Linked DNA regions of Homo sapiens: region 1 is linked to region 2. The links come from fine-mapping of genetic effects on gene expression. A gene starts in region 2. The other region holds a variant in brackets. All regions are shown on one strand. Distances are from middle to middle.

Region 1 (5,376 bases), 92 kb before region 2:
GTGAGGATTATGTCTGCACCCTGGTAACTCATCCTTCCTTGACTTGTCTATGACAAAGTCTCTCACAGCACCAGGTAGTTCTTTCCCAAAACGATTGCAATTTTACACACACACACACACAAACACACACACACACAGAGACTGCACATATACATATATATCCAATCCATTTTGGATTATTGCTCAATCATTTGGGATTACTGCCTTAGTTTCCCCATCTGTAAAATGGGGATGACATTTACCAATCACAGTACCTCCCCCATGTGGTGTGGTTCAGAGAATTCCATGAGCAAATACAAGGAGTAAATACAATTCATTTTGTGATTACTTATTTAACCTCTACTTATTCCCCTACTGGATTATGAATTTTATGAGTCTTTGCTCCCCAGCAACCTCCTCAGGGTCTAGCTGTGTGCCTGGCACAGGGTAGATGCATAACAAATACTTGTTAAATGAATGATGAATGAATGAATGAAATAATATGCATATTCTATACTCCTTGTATACTCATTGCATTAATCTATTTATATTCTACCAATGTCCAACTAACCCCGCCATCTGGAACACACTCTTTCCTATGACATCCTTCTGATGAATGCCCCATCTGGCCTTTCTTGAAACACATGATGGAATAGTGGCTACGAAAGTGGACTCTGGATCCAGACATCTCATCCAGTTCCGTCAATCACAAGTTTCATGAGCTTGAGCAAGTGTATGACTCCACTGTGCCTTGGTTTTCCCTTCTGTAAAATGGAGATATTAGCAATAGTGGTACCTTCCCCGTGAGATGTAGTTCAGAGAATTCTATGAGCAAACACAAGTATAGCATTGATCTTCACACCTGGCTGAATGTTGGAAATATTGGAAAGCTTTTGGAAAACACTGATGCCTGAGTTTCATACCCAGGTTTCTGATTTAATTGGTCTGAGGTTAGGCCCAGGCATTGGGATTTTTAAATTCTTCCCAAGTGATATAAATATCCAGGAAAGTTTAAGAATGACTAATACAAAGTGCTTGAAACAGTACCTGGATACTGAGGTCATTCCTCAGGATCCATGGGGAATTGGTTCTAGGACCTCCTGTGGATACCAAAATCTGCGGATGTTCAAGACCTTTATATAAAATGGCATAGTATTAATATTTACATATAAACCTATGCTCATCCTCTCATATATGTTAAGTCATCTCCAGGTTACTTATAATACCTAATACAATGTAGATGGTCTGGAAGTTGTTTTTATACCATATTGTTTAGCAATAAGGACAAAGAAAAAGTCTGTACATGTTCAAGACAGATGCAAGTTTTTTCAAATATTTTCAGTCCACAGTTGGTTGAATTCATGCATGTGGAACCCATGGATACTGGATACCAAGGCTGATTGTACTAAGTAAATATTAGTTCCTTGTCTCTTTTAAGTATTGATGTAAATTTCATTTCCTCCAGGATGTCTTGTCTGCATCCCAAGACCAAGTCGGGTGCCTCTCCCTGAGTTCCTCCATAGCTACGCTCATCACACTGGATTGAGACTGTCCAGTTACTCATCCGTCTTACATACAAGGCCATGAGCTGTGTCCCAATGCATGCATAAAGGTTGTGCATAGGGTAATTCTGAAGAAAATTGGTTGAACAAATTTTCTGCCTCCCTGACTTATCCCAAACAGTGTTGATCCCAGTGGGTCTCAACACTATCTGTGCACCTGACACCCCAACCTCTCCAATATCCAACTGCCTACTCAGCAGCATTGCTTGGCCATCAGCAGACATCTCAAACTTTGTTTTTGGAGACAAGGTCTCACCCTGTCTTCCAGGCTGGAGTACAGTGGTATAATCACAGCTCACTGCAGCCTCAATTTCCCTGGGCTCAGGTGATTCTCCCACTTCTGTCTCCTGAGTAGCTAGGACTACATGTGCATGCCACCACGCCTGGCTAATTTTTGTATTTTTTGTAAAGACAGGGTTTTGCCATATTGCCCAGGCTGGTCTTGAACTTCCGGACTCAAGCAATCCTCCCGCCTCTGCCTCCCAAAGTGTTGGGATCACAGGCATGAGCCACAACACCTGGCCAACATCTCGAACTTTAACTTGGCCAAAGCTGAACTCTTTATTTTC[T/G]TCTCCAAACTAGGTCTCCCATTCTCGCTAACCAACACCTCCACTTTACCAGTTTCTCAGACCAAAAATCTTAGAGTTATCTCTTACTCCTCTTTCTCTCATGCCCATCCATCCATCCATCCAATCCACCAGCAAATCCCATCAGCTCCATCAGCAAAACATATCCAGGATTCTACCATTACTACCTGTGACATTACACTGCGGACCAAGCCACTGTCATCTCTCACCCAGAATGCCCCAGCTCCTGACTCCTATTACTGTTTCCACCCTTGGCCTCCAACAGTCTATGACAGTCCAGCAGCCAGAATAATCCGACTACACAACAGCTCTGCTCAAAACACTCCAATAACTCCCAGTCTCACTCAAATTAAAGTTTGAAATTCAACCACAGCCTAACATTTCCTCCGTGATGAGTTCTGAGCTCTCTCTCTGATCTTAGCTCCTATCACTTTCCCATTCTTGTGGTTTTCTTGCTGCCATTCAAACCCCCTAGGGCCACCCATGTTTGAAGCCTTTGCACAGACTGTTCCTTCGGTCTGTAACCCTATTCCTCAAATATCTGCTTTGCTTCCTTCACTTCCCTTTTGTCTCTGTCTAAATGTTACAAGGACACCCTCTCTTACTGCCCTATCTAAAATAGCCCTCTAACCCCTCACTGCCTGCTCTGCTGTACTTTGGTTTCATAGCATTTATCACCATCTGCCTTGACATTTATTCTTATTTTTTATTGTATTTATTTATTTATTTAGAGACAGAGTCTCACTCTGTTGCCAGGCTGGAGTGCAGTGGCGCGATCTCAGCTCACTGCAACCTCCGCCTCCCGGGTTCAAGTGATTCCCCTACCTCAGCCTCCCGAGTAGCTGGGACTACAGGTGAGTGCGCGCATCACCATACATGGCTAATTTTTTTTTTTTTTTTTTTTTGTATTTTTAGTAGAGATGGGGTTTCGCCATGTTGGCCAGGATGGTCTCGATCTCCTGACCTCGTGATCTGTCTGCCTCGGCCTCCCAAAGTGCTGAGATTACAGGCGTGAGCCACCGCGCCCGGCCTGACATCTATTCTTTATAGTCTGTTTCTGCACACACTACATGCTAAAAGGTAAGCTCTATGAGAATAAGAACATTGTCTATTTGGTCTGCTGCCATGTTCCAAGTGCTGAACGTAATTGGCTGGCACCAGCTAGGTGTTCAATAAACACTGAATGAAGTAATCTCCTTGGAAGCACGGCATTGGCTGGTCAGTTTACGCTGACGGAATGGAAATTCACGCAGTTGGAAGGAGCACCACTTAGGCATTGCCACCTCCTTAGAAATACCACTTGGGGCTGGGCGGGGTGGAGCTCCCAGCACTTTGGGAGGCCGAGGTGGACGGATCACAAGGTCAAGAGATCCAGACCATTCTGGCCAACATGGTGAAACCCCGTCTCCACTAAAAATACAAATTTAGCTGGGCATGGTGGAGCGTGCCTGTAATCCCAGCTACTCAGGAGGCTGAGGCAGGAGAACCACTTGAACCCAGGAGGCAGAGGTTGCAGTGAGCCGAGATCACGCCACTGCACTCCAGCCTAGGGAACAGAGAGAGACTCTGTCTCAAAAAAAATGAAAGAAAGAAATAGCACATAGGCACTAACTCCCAACCTCACTGAGTCATATTTAGCTTCTCAGGAGGGTGGGGAACATTTCTCAGAAGATAAATAGAATCTTTATGAGAAGGAGAAAGGCTTGGCATTTCATGGCTTTTCCAAAATATTTTCAATAGCAATTTGAAGGCTATTTGCTCCTCTGACATTTATCTTCATTTGGCATGGGAAATGGCTGAACGACATGGAGAGGAGGCATCGCTTATGAATGTTGGGTGGTGGCAAAAGAGGCCTCTTACACGAATCTATCACAAAGAGCTGCCATGGCCTCTTGGCTCTGTGAAATCTGCCCCCACCTGCTTTGATTGATTCAGCCAGGATGCCCCCGATAGCTCAATTCATTTGAAGAATAATTATCCACTGTGTTCTAGATGCTGCTCCCTTGTCCCTGGGGAGTTGATGTCGGGAGGTTAGGCTAGTGACAAGTGACAGAGTATGTCTGATCATTGTTCTCACCCTGGGAGGAGTGGCCAGCTGGGGTCAGGCCACGGGGACATGGGCATGTGAATATCGTTGGCATTGTTTGCCTGTGTTACTGATGATGCTTCTCCCTCTGCTGGACTCTGCAGTGCAGACTGCTCTCCCAGTCTGTACCTCCCAAAGTGACATCTTCAAGGGTTGTGCTCAAGTCAGCACCTGGATCACAAGCCCACCTGGGGGACAGCAGGTCGCTGTCACAGGTCTTGGGACAAAAGTTTTGTTTGTCCCTCCAGACTCACTCCATCCTTTCCCACCTGCTTGATGCCCCAGGAGGAGAGCTTCTGTAGTTTACGTCAATGAGCTCCCTCACCTTCTAGCTTCGGGTTGGGTTCAACTGATGTGAGATGCTCACCAGAGATCAGAGGGCAGGAGAAGAGAGGTCAGAGTATTCATTCTCACTGTTAGGCCATAGACTGGTATGGCTGCACTTCTTCAATGGAAACCACAGGTCCACATCGGGTGCTGGGGCTCACGCTTATAATCCCAGCACTTTGGGAGGTCAAGGCGGGTGGATCACTTGAGCTCAGGAGTTGGAGACCAGCCTGGCCAACATGGCAGAACCCTGTCTCTACTAAAAATACAAAAATTAGCCAGGTGTGGTGGTATGCACCTGTAATTCCCAGCTACTCAGGAGACTGAGGCAGGAGAATTGCTTTAACCCAGGAGGTGGAGGTTGCATTGAGCTGAGATCACACCACTGCACTCCAGCCTGGGCAACAGAGTAAGACTCTGTCAAAAAAAAAAAAAAAGAAAGAAAGAAAAGAAAGAAAAGAAAGAAAGAAAGAAAGAAAGAAAGAAAGAAAGAAAGAAAGAAAGAAAGAAAGAAAGAAAGAAAGAAGGAAAGGGAAAGGGAACCACAAGTCCTCTTGGATGACTCTCCATTGCCTGCAGCATCCTTAGGTTTTGCTAAACCTTCCCTCCCAGTCTCAGGCCTACAGGTAGTTAATAGCTCACCATCGTTGCTAGTCCCAGAAAACATCATCTTCTTGTGTGGGACTCCCTTAACCCCACGCAGGCCCTTGTACATAGTCCCTTCAAGAAACTGTCCTCAATCGTTCCTTGTGGTATGTTGCATGTTTCCTGCCAGAATTCTCAATGATACTGGACTGTACCTTTAACACCCGTGAATGCCATGCACAAGAATGCA
Region 2 (5,376 bases):
ATTAACTCTGTACCTCTGGGGGTGGAACCCAGGCATCCCCAGGCGAATCCAGTATGTAGCCAAGGGCAAAAACCACTGTCTTAGAAAATCTTGGTCAGATGCAGCAGCTCCTACTTGTCATCCCTGCACTTTGGGAGGCCAAGGCAAGGAGGACTACTTGAGGCCAGGCATCTGAGGCCAGCCTGGGCAACACAGCAAGACTCCGTTGCTATAAAAAAAAATTATTTTCAAGTGAAAAAAAAAGAAAATTAAAACATGTTTTTTAGAAGTTCCCTAGGTGGTGATGCACACCTCGGGGTCATTCATTTATTCACTAAATCAACGTCTAGTGAGCATCAGGCAGTGTGCTGGGCCTTGAGGGCAGAGCAGAGAATAAGAAATCAGAATCTCTGCCCTCATTAAGTTTATATTCTGGCTGAGGACCTGGCAATAAATAACCAGTACATAATTCATTCATGTCACAAGGAACATCAATTAGGAAGTGGCATAAAGGATGACAGCAGGGGCCAGGTGCAGTGCCTCACGCCTGTAATCCCAGCACTTCAGGAGGCCGAGGCAAGTTCGAGACCAGCCTGGCCAACATGGTGAAATTCCATCTCTACTAAAAATACAAAGATTATCTGGCTGAGGTGGCACATGCCCATAATCCCAACTACTCAGGAGGCTGAGGCAGGAGAATTGCTTGAACCTGGGAGGCGGAGGTTGCAGTGAGTGGAAATTATGCCATTGCACTCCAGCCTGGGCAACAGAGTGAGACTCTGTCTCAAAAAAAAAAGTGGGAGTGGGGGAGGCCAGGCTGTAATCCCAGCACTTTGGGAGACTGAGGCGGGCGGATCACCTGAGGTCGGGAGTTTGAGACCAGCCTGACCAACATGGAGAAATCGTCTCTACTGAAAATACAAAATTAGCTGGGCGTGGTGGCGCATGCCTGTAATCTCAGCCACTCGGGAGGCTGAGGCAGGGAGGCATGCCATTGCACTCCAGCCTGGGTAACAAGAGTGGAGCTTGCAGTGAGCCGAGATCACTCTGTCTCAAAAAAAAAAGAGGATGCCAGAGGGGAAAAAAGCACCCTGAGGGGTGAAAACAGCCAGTGCCAAGGCCCTGCAGCAGGTAAGAGCATCAAATCATGAAATCATGAGACCATGCTCCAAAGAGCTAAAGAAACCACTAACAGAAATTCTTGAATTTGCAGGAAGGCAAATAAAAAAAGAAACAATTTGAAACTCCTTTCACTTATAACAAAACCAGCTGCAATCAGCTGGAAGCAATATGGCCAACTGGAGTTAGTGCAAGACCAGCTTGCTGATGTCACAGCCTGAATTTCCACTGCATGTTTCACACTCACTCCCTCCAAATTTGCACATGGGACCCATGAGGAGGCATGAAGAGGTAACTGCACATGCCAAAGGTCTTTGCAGACCTCACTTCTCCTTGCACCAATAACCTACTAATCTCAGAATCCACTCCCTAAACCTTTTCTAATAAAACTACTGCCTTAAAGCCAGCACAGGGAGAGAGATTTGAGCTGACTCCTGCCTCCTTCTGAGCCAACTTGCAATAAAAAGCTTTTCTCAGAAACCCAGTTTCATAGTGTTGGGGTCCAGGGCATCCAGCTGTGAGTCCCTTTTGCAATAAGAGAGTGCTCAGCCTGGTCAAGCATCCAAGGTGAGAAAGGGGCAGGGCGTGGTGTGTGATGAAGTTGGGAGAGCCAGACCAGGCCAGGGCCTTGATGATCCGGCCTGCTGTATTCCCTCCTGTCCTCAAAACCACTCAGCAGGCCGGGTGCGGTGGCTTACGCCTATAATCCCAGCACTTTGGGAGGCCGAGGCGAGCAGATAGCTCCAGGTCAGGAGTTGAAGATCATCCTAGGCAACATGGTGAAACCCCATCTCTACTAAAAATACAAAAATTAGCCAGGCATGGTGGCGGGCGCCTGTAATCCCAGCTACTTGTGAGGCTGAGGCAGGAGAATCGCTTGAACCCGGGAGGCAGAGCTTGGAGTGAGCCCAGATCTCACTACTGTACTCCGGCCTGGATGACAGAGTGAGACTCCATCTCAAAAAACAAACAAACAGAAAATAAAAAATAAATAAAAATAAAAAAATGAAACACTCAGCAAGCAGGCAGAGACTTGGGAGAGAAGAAACTCGGCTCATAGGATCTCGGCTGGGACACACGCCTGAGGCCCCTGACCTGATGTCTGGCCACAGACTCCTCAGAAAGGCTCCCGAGAGGGTGACACCCACCCCCTCTGGCCATGAGCCCCTTTCTGCCCCACTCCTACCCTCCAGGCCAGGCCACTGATGTCACTGGTGCCAGGACAGCATTGTTCTCCCTCCCACACCCGCCTTCACCTCACAAGCCCCATCACCATGGGAACTGAGCCAGCCACTCAGAACACAGAGTTTTCAAAGGGCAGCCTTATATACGGAGTCACCTCTCCCCAGAGAGGTCACAGCCAACATTCAGAGGCCTCCCAGGGCCCCCTCTCCCTGGATAAACCACTTCAGCTGCCCCCCATTTTTCTCGAGGGAGAAAAAGGGGAATCCTCTGTCCAGAATGAGCAGGAAGGAGAGCCAAGCCTACAGTCACCCAGCTTAGAGCTCCAGTCCCCTGCGTGGCCACGCCATGCAGGAGTGGCTCAGGAGCCCCTGAAAGTGTCCAGCAGCTACCTCAGTGACACCCAGAGCAGCGAGAGTCATGTTTCCAGCGTGCAGCACCCGAGGCCAGAGGAGGGCAGCCATGCCAGCCTGAGCAGCGGGTACGCAGGGGACAAGGAGGGCAGCGACATCAGCTTGGTGGGCAGCCACCGGAGAGTGCGGCTGAACAGAAGGCTCAACACCCAGGCGGCCAGTAACCAAACCAGCCAGCTGGGCTCCATAGACCCTCCCAGCTCTCTAAAGAGCCGGCTGACTGGCCCCGCCCACAGCACCAAGCAGACTGGAGGGAAAGAGTGAGGCCAGCCTGCCCGGCAGCGGCAGCGGCAGCAGCATCCTGTCCAGCGCCAGCTTCATCAGCTTGGGCAGCAGTGCCCTCACCTACAAGGTGAGCAGCGGGCTGCTGACTTCCACAGCCAGCCTTCCCTCCACCCAGGCCAGCAGCCGTCAGAGCGTCCGGCTGGATGGCAGTGCCCAAAACAGGCAGAGCAGCCACACCAGCGTGCAGGAGGACAAGACGGGCGGCAACGTGAAAACCAGTGAGCAGGTCACCACGGGGGAGCAGCCTGCCCAGGTGTGCATGCCTTTGTGAGAATCCTCTCCAGCAGCCAGAGTCTCCCAGAAAACAACACACAGGCCCAGCAAACACAGGCTGCACCCAGAGTGGATATTCCCAAAACAAGTAGGAAAGGTGTTTTCAAAAGCACACACTGACTGTGTCAACCATCAGTGGGTAATCCCATTTGTAGCAACAAGCATCAGTGGGCAGGCCACATGTAGCAGGAAGGATCTATGCTGAGCACCGCCTATCCTGAGAACACAGTCAGTGAGGAGACTGTCTATACTGAGAACCACTGTTGCTAGGAAGAGCTGTAGTATCAAGATTCACCAATGCTGAGTCCACCTGTGTCAAAACAGCGAAGAGTAATGACATCGACTGTGAACTTCAGTGACAAGCCATCTATAACAAGATCCATCAATGGCAAAACCATCTGTAGTCAGCAGCATCCTGGTGGGACCCCCTGTACCAAAACTCATCAGTGGCGACAGATGTTCTCGATGGCAAACGCTGACGATATTAAGAACTGTCACGAGTTAGAACCTTCCATGATGAAACCATCCTAAATGATGAATGCCATCTGCAACCAACACCAGCCACGATGAGCTCAGAAGAAACAAGCTGCAACCATGGTTGGGACTGTCCATATCAAGAACCATCTGCAGTGAGCGCCATGCGTGGAGAGCCACATCCACATGAAACTTCATCCTGGCCAAGCAGCACCACACTCTGTCCATCATTGTCACTGCCCGCAGAAGCACTAGCAAGACAGCCACGGTGCACACGGAGCACCTTCACGACTCTCAGCTCCCCCAAGGAGTCCAGACTAAGTGACTGTCACCAGAGAAGGATCATCAGGAGCAGCCAGGGATGCCCCCGGCACACAGGGACTAGGTCTAGTGAGAACATTAGAGGGCGGTGTAAATGGATCCCCATGCCTGGGCACCTGTAATCCCAACTACTTGGGAGGCACCATCCCAGAGAGCTCCAAGCGTCCTTTTTTTTTTTTTTTTCCTTTGAGTGCTGTCTCTGGACATCTTCAGCCCAGAATCTTCTCAGGAGCAAAGGCTTCCTGATGCCTCATTCATGTCAAGAAAGGAGGCCAGGAGCCATCCTGTGTTCAGATGGTTGAGACAGTGACTACGATGGCAGGACAATGCCGTGAGAAGCACTTCATGGTGACAGAGCCCAACCCAGCCGGGAACAGCTGCGATGGGGAAGCTCTGGAGCATTTTGTGAGCACCGTCTCGGTGGATGGGAAAGCCGAAGTCTCTGCCCGTCTCTTACTGGAGGCACTAAACCCCCTCCCTGGGTTGACCTCACAGACATTGAAGTGAGTCTGCCCACAAAGGAAAAGAGGCCAGAGACTGTCGTGAAGACATCCACTAGGTACCAGAAGGAAAGCTGAGGGGGCAGCAAAGACAATAAAAGGTGTCTAGAGAGGTCATATGTGTGTGGGTCTGTGTGTGCGTTCCCGGCCGAGCTCACAGGAGGGGTGGGCCACAAACACACTAAAGAACCATGGAGAGAGTTGGGCATGGCTACCAACTCTGCCACTGCTGTGCTGGCCATCTGGGCAAAATAGTTAAACTTTCAGAGCCTCAGTTTCCTCATCTGGGAAATGGGGACAGTAACCCCTATTTCATACATAGGATGGTTATGTGGATTACATGAAAATGTATATCAAGTACCCAGCAAGGGATAAGTACTAATGTAATGTATTTCTTTCCCTTTTCTTTTTTTTTTCCTTTTTATTTTTTAACTTTTAAGTTCAGGGGCACATGTACAGGATGTGCAGGTTTGTTACAGAGGAGAATGTGTGTCATGGGGGTTTGTTATACAGATTATTTTATAACCCAGGCATTAAGTGTAGTATCCATTAGTTATTTTTCCTGATCTTCTCCCTCCTCCCACTCCCCACCCTCCGATAGACCCCAGTGTGTGTTGTTCCCCTCTATGTGTCTATGTGTTCTCATCATTTAGCTCCCACTTCTAAGTGAGAATATGCGGTATTTGGTTTTCTGTTCCTGCCTTAGTTTACTAAGGATAATGGCCTCCACCTCCATCCCTGTCCCTGCAAAGGGCATGATCTCTTTTTTTTATAGCTGCATAATATTCCATGGTGTATCATTTTTCTTGCTTATGGGTAAAATGGGCACA

Evidence for each region. PIP is the estimated chance that this variant, and not a neighbour inherited with it, causes the effect. A credible set is the group of variants that fine-mapping cannot tell apart.
Region 1: its variant is the best candidate, but not a certain one, in a credible set for the expression of C16orf82 in tibial nerve (GTEx, PIP 0.63).

The regions. Positions count from the first base shown.
Region 1 is chr16:26,972,849-26,978,224 of GRCh38, forward strand. No RefSeq gene overlaps it. Among named protein-coding and RNA genes, the nearest start is that of C16orf82, 91 kb to the right of the region's middle. The variant T/G (reference allele first, on the strand shown) is at 2,111.
Region 2 is chr16:27,064,504-27,069,879 of GRCh38, forward strand. C16orf82 (chromosome 16 open reading frame 82) reads left to right here and starts at 2,424. Exons shown (of 1, transcript NM_001145545.2): 1 at 2,424-4,663. The coding sequence starts at 2,493. The coding sequence ends at 2,957.